3 linked regions of the Homo sapiens genome follow. The protein of the gene in region 3 interacts with the protein of the main gene of each other region in a pairwise test. Each region holds a gene or a part of one and is shown on either strand. Other genes may lie near its edges.

Region 1 (5,183 bases), on a different chromosome or scaffold from region 3:
GGGAGCCCCGGGAAGCCCTACCCCAGCGCTGGGAGTCACGCGAAGGGGGCCACCGGCCGTGGGCACGGGACTCCAGGGACGCCGAGCCCAGGAAGAAGCAGGCCTGGGTGTCCCCGAGGCGTCCCGACGAGGAGCAGCGGCCTGGGAGTCGCCAGAAGCTCCGCGCAGGCAAGGGGCGGGACTGAGCCGGCCCCGCGCCGGAGTCCAGGGGCCCCTTCTGGACGCCCCGCGACTCTGGCGAAATAAAGCGAGTGCTGCGGCCGCAGAGTCACCTGCTCCTTTACGCCTGGACCCGGCACCAAGTCCGGGGCCTGAAAGACGGTGGTGGGGCGCTTCAGGCAGGGGAGAGACAGCGAGCGCTACAGGGCGGACCCGGGCCGTGCGCGAGGAGAGACGGCAAGGGAGGTCCCACGGGCCCCCTAACACGCACGGACACCCCAGCCGGTTGCTTGCTGGTCTTTATTGGGGCGATGCTTGGGGTCCGAATAAATATGGGAAGGGGCGCGAGCTGGGGCGCGTCCGGACCCTCGGGGCAGGAGTCCGCGCGGCGCAGGGGTCACCGGCAGCCACACTCGGTGGCCACCATGTTGGGCACGTGGTGCGCGCTGATGCGCTCCTCCGACAGGCTGATGAGCAGCTTGCCCGCGTAGGCGGTGGGCACGCAGCAGGGTGGGCGCGCCAGGGCGGCCCCACGGACCTGCATCTTCAGCAGCAGCACCACGTGGTTGCCGTAGCGCGGGTTGCGGTCGGACTGAGGCCAGCCGCACACGCCCTGGCAATTGTTGGCCTGGTAGGTCTCGGGGATGAGTACGGAGCGCTCGGCGCGGAGGTCTACGCTGAGCTCGCGCAGCGCGCACGGCCCGTCGGCGGCGGTGGCCCCCGCGCTGCGCTGTGCCCGACCCGGCCCGCGCGGATCCCGCCCGCGCCACTCCACGCGCAGGCCCTGCAGCGCCTTCAGGAGCAGCAGCGCTCGCAGGGGATCGCCGAGGCCGCCGGGGCCACCTGGGCAGAGCGCGAGCAGGCGCGCCAGCAGCGGGGCTGTGGCCGGAGGCAGACCCGGGAGGCTTCGCAGCTCGGCAGCCGCCGCTTGCAGTTCAGCAGCCACGCGGCGCGCCAGGGCCGTGGCCCACGGCGCCGACGTGGGGTCGTGCAGGGGCGCAGGATCCCCGGTGGTGGCCGCAGTGGGCCTCAGCAGCAGCAGCAGCGGCTCCTCGCCGTCGAGTAGGCGCTCCAGCGCCGCGGGGTCCGACAGGTTGACTAGGCCCTGCGGGAAGCCGGCCAGCGCGTCCGGATCCAGGGCCAGGCGCGGCGCGGAGGCCCGGGCCGGGGGGACCCGCAGCGCCCGCACCAGGCGCGTGAGCGTCTCCAGGAAGGGGTCTGCGCTGGGTGGCGACTCCTCGAGTTCCGCGGATGGCCTGGAACCCGCAATTGGAGGAGTTGAGAGCGGCCACGAGGCCACGCCGCCCCCGCCCGCTCCTGCCCCGTGTCCCGGTGCCTGCGCGCACCTGGGCGGCGGGAAGGGCACGGTGTCCAGCTGGCCGTGCGCAGGCAGCGGCGCGGGCTCGGACCGCGGCAGCAGGAGCAGGGCCGGGGTCATCCGTGTGAAGCAGCGGTGGTCGTCGCCGAACAGCAGTGCCTGCAGCCGGGCGGTACTCAGCCGGGAGTCTGCGGTGGGTGGGCACGCGGCTGGCTCAGGGGCTGGGGGCCCGGGGGCAGTCGACCCGGCTCCCCGTCCCTCTCCACGCGGACCTACCCTCTCCGCGGGGCTGCAGGGTCAAGGCCAGCCCGGAGCCGCGCCAGGCCCCCGCAGGGCGGTCCACCGCTAACACCAGGTAGCGGGTGTCTCGGGAGGGGCAGAGGCTCTGCGGAGACCAGGGCTCAGCCCGGCTGGATGGAGGCTTACCCAGCCCCGCTCTACCGGTCCCCTTCCTCCCATCGCCACTGGTTCTACGCTGTTCTCAGTACTGCAGACCCTGCAACAAATCCATGCCCCCCGCCACGGCCCGGGCACTGCCCCATGCAACTCCCTGGTACCTGGGCACCCGGCAGCCCAGCCCTCGTCACAGTGACCTCAGGGCCAGGCCCAGGGTACAGCACCAGCAGCGCCAGCTCTGGGGGGCCAGCTCCTCCAGGCGGGGGCTCCTGGAACCTCAGCGAGGGTGTTGGCTCCCAGGTCACTGCAGCCGGGACAGCAGGGGACGCCTGAGCCATTGAAGGCCACACCCCCCGGGAATCTTTGGGATCTGTCCCTGCCGCTCTGGCCACTGTGCAGGGGACCTCAAGCGGGGGACAAGGGTGCCCCTCTTAGCTGCCTTCCTGCAGCCAGGGAGCGGTGACGGCAGGGGCAGGCAGGGGCTGCGTCTGAGGCTGTGGGTGGGGCTGCCGCCCTGGGGTCTCTGGGTTGGGGTGCCCGATGAAGCCCCTTCCCCGCAGGGAGTATCTTAGGCCAGCGGCCCTGAGAACAGGCTGGGGCTGTGGGAAGAAGGGTTCCACTGGCCCCGAGCCCTGCGTCGTCTTCAGGGGTGGGGAGAAGGCAGCAGCTCTCTCCCTGGCACCGAGGCAGGGGCAAGTCTAAGAGCTGGGCTTCGGGGACAGGACAGAGTGTGGTGCCCACCTTCCAGGCCACGGACCCGCAACCCAGTCCTAGGAACAAGACCACAGCCTCCCTGCCCAGGGTGGGGGCTCTGCCAGCCCCTGATCTTCCCTAGGAGGACCCGGCCCACCTGAAGGAAGACGGCGGTGCCAAGCTTGGGGCTGGGCCCCACATACCTTCCTCCAGGTGTAGGACCACCAGGCGCTGCCCCCCAGGGTCCCGCAGCCAGGCCCCCAGCCGCCGTAGAGAGGGCAAGGCAGCCTGCCTGTCACCGGTGTTGCAGACCCCGAAGGTGGCCAGGTCTCGGGGGCCCCAGCGGGCCCTCTGCACGGCCCCCAGGAAGGCCTGCTCATAGGCGCTTAGAGCCCCCACCACCCGCAGGGGGGAGCTGCTGCCATTGCTGTCCCCGCCCAGTGCCACCAGGCACAGAGGCTCTTGTGGGCTGCCTGGAGGCCAGTCCAAGTCTTCTCGGAAGATGAGGCCACTGGTGCCCACAGCTGGCTCCTCTGCTCTGAGGGCCTCAGTCCCCAGCAGAGCCCCCAGGGCAGACAGCACTAGGGCCAGGCTGGTGAGAGGCAGGTCCCGCATCGTGGGTGCTGCCAGGGGCTGGGCTGCCTGCCTTAAGTGAGCCGAGTGGAAGGTGGGGTGTTTGTGCAGGACAGACCCCTATCTCCTCTGCCGCGACCTTGGGGGACAGTGCCCGGCGCCCCCACTCCAGGCAGAGTGGCCTTCTCAAAGAGCCCTTTCTGTCCCTGGCAGCCTATCTCCCTCCCCAGTGATAGAGCTGGGCCTGATGTGTCAACATGCCGTCCTTGAGGGCCATCCCCAGAAGACACAGGAGTGGGAACCAGGCTGGGAGTGACGGCCAGGCAACCAAACTAGACAGCGCTGGGGGCGGGGGGCCCAGATGTCCTGGGTGCTGAGGTGTGGGCCTGGAGGAGGAGGGTCCCAAGTCAGTGGGGGCGCCCTGTCCCTGCTCACCCTCCCCACCCCTGGTGGGCTATCTGGAGACCCCAAGGATATCGTGGAGTCTGCTCTTCCCTCCCCAGAACAGGACCCCAGATCCCCTCCTAGCTGGCTGGTGGGGTCTGTCCTCCACCAGGCCATCTCCAAGGTACAGCCATCTCTCAGGCCTCCCACAGGTGTCTCCTGGCGGGCCCCAGGCCCTCCCCAGTCGGCCCAAACTGGGGGATGGTGCTGTGCCTGGCACTCCCACACACACTGACACAGTAGGGCGGCGCTGCGGACATCAGTGCACTCAGGGCTGGGGGAGGCTGTTTAATGAGCGGGGGGCAGTACAAAAGAGCAGCCTTCTCTCAGTGGGAAAAGGCAAGAGCACCTGGCGCTGGGCTTGCTGGGGGAGGGAGCAGCTTCTCAGTTGGTTGGGGGAGGGGGAGGTATGTTCCCTGGGCCTTCGGAGGGAAGTGGGGGCCTCAGCATTGGGGGCATGGGAGTTGGGGGGTGCACCCCAGGATTTGAGGGGTGAACTCCCGGAGGCTGAGGGTGGACCCCAGGAGCCGACGGATGGACCCCGGGAGGTTGGGGGTGGACCCCCGGGGCCTGAGGGTGCATCCCTGGGGCTGGTGGGTGCACCCCTGGGGCCTGAGGGTGAACGGCGGGGGCTGCTGGGTGCACCCCCGGGGCCTGGGGGTGAACCCCCGCTGATGGGGGAGGATGGACCCCTGGGGCTGGTGGGTGAACCCCAGGGGCTGGTGGGTGGACTCCGGGGGCTGGTGGGTGAACCCCGGGGGCTGGAGGGTGGACTCCAGGAGCTGGGGGGTGGACCCCAGAGGTTGGTGGGTGGACCCCAGGGGCTGGGGGATGGACGCCAGGAGCTGGGGGGTGGACGCCAGGAGCTGGGGGATGGACCCCAGATGCAGGGGGATGCACCACTGGGGCCGGGGGGTGGACCCCTGGAGCTGGCGGGGGTAGCTGGGGTGGTCCCGGGGGCCCTGAGGGCGCAGGCCCTGTGGGGGGCATGGGTGGCAGAGGCAGGCCTCCTGGCGGGGGCGGTGGCAAAGACTCAGGCAGCGGTGGCCGAGGGGGCAGACCGTTCATCAGCGGGGGTGGAGGCCGCTTCACCCCAGGGGGGCCAGCAGGGAGGCTGGGTGGAGCCGGGGGCTTCTCCATCTTAAAGTGGAACTGGAGGAAGAACTAGAGAGACGGAGAAAGGTTCAGCAGGCACGGGTGGGGCTAGGGCAGGGCTAGGGCCGCCAGGGCTGGGTGGGAAGGAGCCAGGCTCGGGGCGAGCCACTCACCTGCTTGGTCTCCCGGTTCCAGTGTGTCCAGAACTTGCCCTCCGCCTTGTCGATCTCTCTGCTCGGCACCTGGGAGGGCGGGGGACAGAGAGGGCTCCTGGTCCCTGTGACCTCAGGGCGACCATCAGGCAGGGAGCCCGAGGCACTAGCCTCCCCAGCCCGGACTCTACCCTGGGAGCCCAGGAGAAGGCTGGTAAGACTTTCGTGGGGCACAGGGTTCAGTTCTGGAGTGAAACAGACCTGGCCTCAATGCTAGCACGCTGTTGGCCCCCTCCCTGGGCAGTCACCGTTTGTATTATTTGTTTCCTGATGGCCGCCCTGTCCAGGCATGG
Region 2 (4,657 bases), on a different chromosome or scaffold from region 3:
GAAAAAGAAAGAAGAAAGAGAAAGAAAGAAAGAGTGAAACCAGCAGGAGGGAGGGAGGGAGGGAAAGAAAAAGTGAAACCAGCAATAATACCTATGTTACGGGTTAAATTGTATTTCCATCCCTCGCAAAAGAAAATCCCTATATTCTAACTCCCAGTATCTCAGAATTTGCATTTGAAAATAAAGCCTTTAAAGAAATAATCAAGGTAAAATACAGTCATATTGGTGGACCCCAATCCAATACAACCAGTATTCTTCTAAGATACAGGCAACATGCAGACTGAGAGGTGACAAAGCTATGACACAACAACAAGTGGCCCAACCTAGGCAAGATGGCAAGACCCTCATCTCTATTAAAAACTTATAAAAATTATCCAGGTGTGGTGACACATGCCTGTAGAGCCAGCTACTAGGAAGATGAGGGAGGAGGATCCCTTGGGCCCAGAAGTTCGAGGATGCAGTAAGCAGTGTGATGGTGCCACTGTACTCCAGCTTGGGCGAGACAGCAAGACCACCTCTTTTGAAAAAAAGAAAGGAAACAGGCCTCAGAAGAAACCGAATCTGCCTACACATTGTTTTGTACTTCTAGTCTCTAGACCTATGAGAAAATAAATTTCTGTTGTTTAAGCCACCTAGTCTGTTGTATTTTGTTACGGCAGCCCAAGCAAACCAATACACTGTGATATGAAAACCAGAAAAAAATTAAAAGAAATTCACAGACCAGTATCACTCACTAATAAAGGTCCAAAAAATCCTTTTAAACAATTACCCAATCAAATAAATCCATTAACGTACGTTCTTTAAATAGGGCATATAAATTTAAAAGATGTAAAAGTATATTCATATACAGATAACATGACTGTTTTCTTACAAATCCTATAGGTTCTACCAAAAAATTATTAGAACTAGTAAGTAAACTTAAAATTTCATAAAATACAAGGTCAACATAAAAAAAGTGTATTTACATACTAGCAACAATTAGAAATCGAAATTAAAAGAACAACATTTAGAACACCATCAAAAACATAAAATACTTAGGGGTAAATTTTAAAAATATGGTGAAAAACCTCAACTGAAAAGCATAAACACTGCTAAGAGAAATTACAGAGGACCTAAATAATTGGAGAAATATACTATGTTCATGATTCAAAAGATAATATTAAGATGTCATCTTCCCAAATGAAATCACAGATTCAAAGTAACCAACATTAAAATCCTACATCCTTTTTTATAGAAATTGGCACGCTAATCCTAAGATTTATGTGGAAATGCAAAGAACATAAATAATCAAAACAACTTTGAAATAAAGGATAAAAATTACACTACCTGATTTCAAGATGTACTATAATAATACCATAATCAAAACAGTGTGGCACTTGTGTAGGGATAAACATATATACACCAACGGGACAGAATAAAAATTGCAGAAATAAACTCATATATATGGTTAATTTTTGAGAAAGGTGCCAAGAAAATTCAATGAACAGAGATGATCTTTTCAACAAATGATGTTATAATATTAATGAAGCCTTCAACCCTTACCAAACACAGTGTATAAAAACTAACTTGAAGTGGATCATAACCATAAGAAAACTATAAATCTTCTAGTAGAAAATATACAAGAGAATGTTTTCTAATTTCATGTTAGATAACTTCTTAGCTAGAACACAAAAATTAAAAATAATAAAAATCAATTTGGACTTAAAACTGAAAACTTTATCGATACATTAGAAAAAAGAAAAAACTTTTGCACTTTAAAAAATTATTAAGAAAATGAAAAGATAAGCAACAGACTAAGAGAAAATACCACAATACACAGGTCTGACAAAAGATGTATGCAGAATACATAAAGAACACTTACAACGCAAGATGACATGCAATTTTAAGGGAAAAAATGGGCCAAAGATCAAAACAGACATTTCACAAAAGATATGCAAATGAAAAATAAGCACATAAAAATATGTTACATAACAATGTGATAAAACTACATATCCACAAAAATGACTAATATTTAAAAGACTGAAAACACTGAGCACTGGCAAGGATGTGAAACAATTAAAAACAAATAAAACAATACAAGAAATAAATACAAACCAAATAAAAGAACTTTTAATTGTTGCTGGTAGAAATGCAAAATGGTGGCCGGGTGTGGTGGCTCACACCTGTAATCCCAGCACTTTGGGAGGCCGAGGCGTGGGGACCATGAGGTCCAGGGATCGAGACCAACCCGGCCAACACAGTGAAACCCCATCTCTACTAAAAATACAAAAAATTAGCTTGGCATGGTGGCGGGCGCCTGTAATCCTAGCTACTCGGGAGGTTAAGGCAGGAGAATTGCTTGAACCCAGGAGGCAGAGGTTGCACCAAGCTGAGATCGTGCCACTGCACTCCAGCTGGGGCGACAGTATGAGACTCCCATCTCAAAAAAAGATAAAAAAGAAATGCAAAATGGTAGAGGCAGTTTTTAAAAAGTTTTGCAGTTTATTTTAAAACTAAACATACACTTGGCAGAGAACTCAGCAATTCACTACTAGATATTTTTACCCTAAAAATGTGAAGACGTGTCTGCACAAAAACCTGAATGCTTACAGAATTTTCTAAATAATAGCCAAAAACTAGAAACAAGTCAAAAATCTTTTAACTAGCAAATATATAAGCAGTTCATGTTATATCCATATAATGGGATAATACTAAGCAATTAAAAGAAAAAAAACAGTACACTCAACATCATCAGTGTATTTCAAAACATTATACCAAACGAAAGAAACCAGACACAAAAGACTACCGACTAAAGGACTCCATTAATATGAAATTCCAGAAAAGGCAAAATGACAGCAATGCAAAGCAGATCACTGGTTGCCAGGTGTTAGGTGTGAAGGTAGACACAGAGTATGAAGTGCTGGCAAAAGTGAACTTTCTGGAAATGTATCATATCTTCATTAGGGTGGTGACTGCACAGGTGTATTCATGTGTCAAAACTCATTCAACTACACACTTATGACCAGTGACTTATTTTATGCAAATTATAACTTAGTAAAGCTAATTTTAAACAAAATCAGCCTCTAAATAAAGGCAAGGAAATGGGTGGTTAACTTGGGTAACCATTTGTAATAGTGGTTAAGAACCTGACCTCTGAGCCAAATTGTCTGAATATAAATACTGGTACCACCATTATTAACCGTGTAACTGAGACAAGTTATATAACCTCTATGGGCCACATTTCCTCATCTACAAAATGGGAACTATAAGAGTATCTACAGCAAACAGTTGTTGTGAAGATTAAACAAGTAACGTAAAACCTTTAAAATAGTGCCTGGCAAATAGCAATTTATATTTGAGCACTTATTATTATGAGTATTTGTCCCAAACTAATTGTCAGTACAACACATTCCATCTTCACTTGAGTGGACTTGGCATTTATGAACGTTTGAGTTTCAAATATCTAAAAGAACCCCCAAAACAGTCGTAATTTTTACAAAGCCTACTTTGTCTCATTATCTCTATTTAGAGCCAAATGCCCATCTGTGAATTAATACTAAAGACAGAGGATTCCAATGCACTAGACACTTGAGCATGGATCATGTGTTCCAATTCTGAATTTGGGGAAAAAATGTACCACCCCAAACCACACAGATTAGGAAAGAAGGATGGATTCCCAATGGTTACACCAGAAATACAATAAACAGAAATCAGATCACCTACTGCATTCTATGTTTCACTTTATATAGAAACAGAGGCAAAATCAGTTCATAAAACTTAATTGTGAAAAATGAAAGGACAACTAACATATTTTAAGTATAAAGAAAAACATGTTACTCTCAGTGAATATATTGTTTGAGAAAGTACCAACCTATCTGAATAGAACTTGGCTCATACACACATAAAGAAAGAGGACAAAGAACAAGTAAGGTGGAGGGCAAAGACAAGTCTGCACAAAAACCTGAATGCTTACAGAATTTTGTCCTACATACAACATCACATATAAAAACAGATCAAGAACTTTAAAAACAATTTAGCAGAGTTTCACTACATTGCCCAGGATGGACTCAAACTCCTGGAGCTGAGACTACAAGCATGCACCATCATGCCCAACTTAAAAAACATTTTATTTGGTATACAGGTTGAATATCCCTAATCTGAAAATCTGAAATCCAAAATCATGCAAAATCAAAAATTTTTTCAGTGCCAACATGACTATCAGAGGAAATGCTCACTGGAGCATTTTGGATTTCAGATTTTTCAGATTAAGGATACTAACCTGGTAAATATAATTTAAATATTCTAAAATTCGAAAACAAAAACCAAAAAAACCCCTAAAATCCAAAACACTTCTGGTCTCAAGCACTTCAGATAGAGGATACTCACCCTGTAATACAAATTTTAACAGGAAAAAGACGATGGGCTAATTCCACCGTCAAAAAAGCCTTTCCTCCCAAGCTGTGGAAGTTTTCTGAGGAAAAGGGTAGCAGGTTAAAATAATTATATAAAATATGAAAAAATCACCATTAAGAAAAAACATACACATACAAGAAGGAAAAGTAAGCAACAAGGTTTAAGGCTACAGTTACTTTAATCAGTAACAGTTCTTAGATGGAACATATCCACCTATGTAATGTTGGCTCATTATCAGAAAAGGTATAAAGATTTGTAAAAGGAA
Region 3 (4,657 bases):
AAAGGTCTTCTAATGATTCTTTCCCTCTGACTTTATTTCTTGAGGTAGAGCTTCAAGAAGGGATAGATTCAAATAGAATAACTTGCTTAAGAAGCAAGGCAAGAACACAAATGTGGGTGGTGCATCTTTGAGCCATTCATTCTTGCAAAAGCAAGTTTGTTTGCCTGCAGTTCAGACCAACAGCCAGAAGCATGAGGAGGAGCTGGCAGAGCCCACAGCCGGCTGCATGCACTTACTTTTCCATGAGCGCTTTCCACAGCCTCGAGTTCAGGACCAGCTTCACTCCAGTCATTTTCTGGAAGAGCTCGTGATTTTTTTCAGGGGAGGGAAGAAAACTCATTCAAATTTAATGAAACCTTATGAGTTGGTTTGACTCACTTAACCAATGAATATAAGCCAAACTTAGATTTGCCAGGGGAAAGCAAACCTTTTTTTTTTTTTTTTTTTTTGGAGAGAGAGTTTTGCTCGTCACCCAGGCCAGAGTGCAATGGCGCAATCTCGGCCCACTTACTGGGATGTCCACGTCCCAGGTTCGAGCAATTCTCCTGCCTAAGCCTCCCGAGTAGCTGGGATTACAGGCACCTGCCACCATGCCTGGCTAATTTTTGTATTTTTAGTAGAGACGGGGCTTCACCATGTTTGCCAGGCTGGTCTTGAACTCCTGACCTCAGGTGATCCGCCCACCTTAGCCTCCCAGAGTGCTGGAATTACAGGCGTGAGCCACTGTGCCCGGCCTGTAACAAATATTCTTACCAGTGGCCACTGGTAATACACTTTCCTATTAATAATGATTTGATAATTTTCCATTGTATATGTGTAAATTTATTGTATACATGAAAGAAAGAGAAATACTAAGAAATGTAGGTAATATTTTTATTTTGGAATGTCAGTTTTAAAGATTATGGCTTTTTTTTTTCTCTAAACACTAAAAGTTCAACTTCTAAAGAGATTATATTTTGTAAGTTTCTTAGAATTGGGTTTCCTGCCCATAGGGATACATCCTTAAGTCTGATTTGAGTGAATGAAACCATTGCTTTTATATCTTATAGAAATGCCCAGCTTACTTCTAGCTGTACAGATTTCACCTCTACCTCACACATATAGATATCAGTAAAGCATGGAGACTCTGAAAGGTCAAATTCAAGGGAATAGAAATCTATAGATCATAGGGATTCTACCAGTGGACCTCATTGTCCCTTGGTCCTAAGAAGTAACTCTGAAGATCTCAGATTGCTTGAGTTGGATGTCCTTTGTAGAGACAAGCTTGCCCAGCCCCCTCCTTTCACAGCTATTCCCAAATAGCTGAAGAGACTGACCAGTAGTGGGGGCAGATGGGAAGGTTTAGGTGAAGTAAGAGGAAGATGTATAAAATAATATTCTTAAAGAAGCTCTCACAAAGCTGCAGAGCCAGGGAGTAGTGGCATATTCAAGTGTATTCAGGGTCTCCATTATTTCAGATACCTGGAGATGGTGTTCAGGAAAGCATCTGGGAGGCCTCTGGCTGTCCAATTCAGCACTCACTTCTCTTCCTTCTATGATCCTGAGAAAGTTACTCAATACCTTCATGCTTTGAGTTTTTCCATCTAGGATTTGGAAGACAGAGAGTAATTATAAAAGAAAAAAATTATAAAAAACTGACATATTTAGGCTCACACCTGTAACCTCAGTGCTTTAGGAGGCCAAGTCGGGAGGATCTCTTGAGCCTAGGAGTTCGAGGTTACAGTTGAAGCGAGTAGTGATCACACCACTGTACCCCAGCCTAGGTACCAGAGCAAGACCCTATCTCTAAAAAACGAAAACAAAAGAAAACTGCCATGTTTCCTAGAAGACACCTTTCGTGTGTATACAGATAAAACTGTGTACATATTTCCTATATATGAAAAAGTGTTTGTGCATGTGTATATATCTATGTAACTGTGTATGTAGCTAAATGTGTACCTTAACACATAGAGCGGCTAAACCAGGGAATCTGGGTCAGTGCATAGATGTATGTACATATTTACTACACATTTTCATAGAACTAACTATGCCATGGATAAGATTGGAACTCAAGAGTGTTTCAAAGTCGGGGTAAGGTGATGTGTTCCATTCATTTTTCTGAACTGACTGGGTACTTAAAGAGTGTGTTACTAGATTTTAGCATATATAAATAGCAGTTTTTTAAATATACATTTTGGGTCTGATTTTTAATCTCACTTATTAATTTCAGTTATGATATTATAAATATATACCTGTTAGCATCTTGAATAACTAAGATATTTTATGCTGAGTAGAGAGCATGATAAAAATCTTATTTCAAAGTCATGGCCTCCATACCAAATACAGCCTAGAGAATTGTTTTAAGATCCAAATGACCCCATTTTCCCCTTGAAGTGTTCTTTTTAGATCTGTGTTTCAAAGAGAATGGAACAACTGGAGGAAGTACAAGTAATTTCCTAAGGACCAGCTAATTAACTGATAAAATCGACTTTTCATAAATACATTGCAATAGACGGCTGGGGAAATAGGATTAACTGTTATGACAGCCCTTGAGCCTAAAACACATTGATCTTAATCCTGTTTCACGATGAGATTATTCAGCTGGATTTCTTTATTAATGTGTGAGTTTAGTACAGTAGAGGCAGTGCCTTTCCTTTGGAGAGGGTACATCATTTTGGTCTTTGGTCCTAGGTGTGGTGTAGCAAAACACCACGTTTTCTTGCTTGGGCCACCTCTATTCAAAAGGATCATCCTAAAGTCTTTTTGTTTGGCAAGGTAAGAAAGAAAACAGTGGGCACTTTAAAAATAAGAGGTTTGAGGGAAAACAAGGCCATTGGTTTATACTTTTCAGGAATCAGTAGTTCTGAAGGTAGAAAAGAATGCTGATGAAAGCGTGAGGAAAACATGGAGGAGAGATTCTTTGACTCCAGGTTTTACAGTGTTACTTTCAAAGTGTTTGTTAGTTAGCCCAGTACCTTACTGCTGGGAGGGTGCTAAATGATTTGAAATCCTTCCTGTTTTGATAGCCTCAAAGATTCTTAGACTCAGTATTCTGAAGGACCCAAGACCTACAGTACGCATTTACTTAAAGGAGCCATCTGTTTTACAAAATCTGCTTTCGTCTACCTTTAATTCAGTTAGGCTTATTTAAAACTGAATTTTTCTCTTACCCTTCTGTGTCTCTGCGCTGTTAGTCATCTAACAAAACCCAGTAGGCTTACCAGTCCTTTGTATTTGGTGAGAAAGATTTGGGACGGGGAGTTACATCTGTGTCAAGATCACTTGTGTAGGTGCCAGAAGTAACAAAATCCTGGCATCCATGAAGAAATTACCATTTATCCCCTCCTCTTTCAGCATTCTTCAGTTTTACAGGAGTAAGGCATGGGTAGCATAATGAAGCCGAAAATGTGTACTGTCTCCCATTTCTACCATCTAGTAGTATCATTGTTTTAATTTCAGCCCTAGAAAAAAATGTTTCTTGGTGGTGGGGTGGGGTGTGTGATTCTCTGCCGAGAAACTGTTCCCTCCACACATTTCTTGGGTTTTAGTGGTGGTAAAGTACATCCAGCCTCAGAGGCTGACAGCCCCCTCTCGGGCATACGGCTGCCCTTGAGGCAGCTTGGGCCCCATCTGTGCCCTGGCACACAGTGCTTCTCCACTTGGAATCCAAGGAGCTCAGAGGCTTGTCATGTTGCAGCTCCCAGCTCTTGGACAAGTGCCAGGCATGCTGATGCCATTACCGGATTAGGTTGCTTTTTTAAAAATTCATTTTGTGAACTCATCAAGCTCATTTAACAGAGGCTTTGGTCGTCAGTTTCTATCATTGTCCTATCCCTCTAGGCTTGGCTTAAAGGAGTGGCAAGATACCAGGCCCCTAGTATGTGCCGGCACTAGTTAGAGTGTGTATGTATAAATTATAACCATAATGTAAGTACACCTTTGGGCCTGGCAGGCAAATGACAGTGGGTTAGCAACTCAGATGTTAAAGGGAAAAGAATTCCCCGTAAGAGGACTCTGCATAGAAAATAAAGGGGGCTCCCTTGTTTAAAAAGAAAGAAGCATCTAGGGGAAAATTGAAGCAGAGAGTGCAAGATTCCAGGGAGCAGGATAAGATCTAGTTATTAAAAGGCCAGGAGTTTGAGGCTGATCTGAACAGCCGAGGCATGGAATGGGGATTCTGTGGTCAGAAGGACTTCAGAGAAATGCTTCCAGTGGCACTGAGTTCGCTGGAGGGGACATGAGGGCAGGCAGTGAGAAGAAGCATACATAAGACATTTGAAAATAGCCAAATATGTGATGAAAAAAAGGAAACAACCATGAGCTAAAATTTATCTCCTGGATTTGCTTTTCATAAAGAAGTATGCTTTTCCTTGAAATAAAGTCTGGTTGTCAGACGGGCTCCATCCGCTTTCCCTCAGGGTGATTATTGAAGGTTTGGAAAAAATATCTAAGAAGCAAAGCCAGTTTTTTTTGCCTTGTACTTTGCAAAGTCTCGGCGTAGATTTCACCCTCCAACCTTAGATCTCCACATTCTTCCCTTTTGATGTCTCATGAGCATTCAGGAGGGTATTCTGAACTCTTCAGGCTGGATCCAAAGCCAAAAAAGGAACTGTGAAATTGTCTTAATAGGTAGCTTGTCCCCTCCTCTGCAGCCAGAAAATCTGGTAGTGTCTCCAGA

Evidence for each region. Proteins that work in one complex are often made in the same cells at the same time.
Region 1: the proteins of ETV5 (region 3) and AMH interact in a two-hybrid assay, tested with the Homo sapiens proteins (one large-scale study listed by BioGRID and IntAct).
Region 2: the proteins of ETV5 (region 3) and COP1 interact in binary tests that used the Homo sapiens proteins (3 or more experiments, as listed by UniProt).

What each region holds. Positions count from the first base shown.
Region 1 is NC_000019.10:2,247,331-2,252,513, reverse strand, and holds AMH (muellerian-inhibiting factor preproprotein), read right to left. Parts: upstream 3,192-5,183; 5' UTR 3,182-3,191; coding exon 2,770-3,181; intron 2,178-2,769; coding exon 2,035-2,177; intron 1,876-2,034; exon of another isoform or gene 1,863-1,875; coding exon 1,754-1,862; intron 1,666-1,753; coding exon 1,506-1,665; intron 1,416-1,505; coding exon 557-1,415; 3' UTR 441-556; downstream 1-440. Other genes in the region: JSRP1 (junctional sarcoplasmic reticulum protein 1), read left to right, coding at 1-185; SF3A2 (splicing factor 3A subunit 2), read right to left, coding at 3,968-4,747, 4,852-4,920. UniProt on the Homo sapiens protein: Plays an important role in several reproductive functions. Induces Muellerian duct regression during male fetal sexual differentiation. Also plays a role in Leydig cell differentiation and function.
Region 2 is NC_000001.11:176,196,896-176,201,552, forward strand, and holds part of COP1 (E3 ubiquitin-protein ligase COP1), read right to left. Parts: intron 1-4,657. UniProt on the Homo sapiens protein: E3 ubiquitin-protein ligase that mediates ubiquitination and subsequent proteasomal degradation of target proteins.
Region 3 is NC_000003.12:186,098,429-186,103,085, reverse strand, and holds part of ETV5 (ETS translocation variant 5), read left to right. Parts: intron 1-4,657. UniProt on the Homo sapiens protein: Binds to DNA sequences containing the consensus nucleotide core sequence 5'-GGAA.-3'.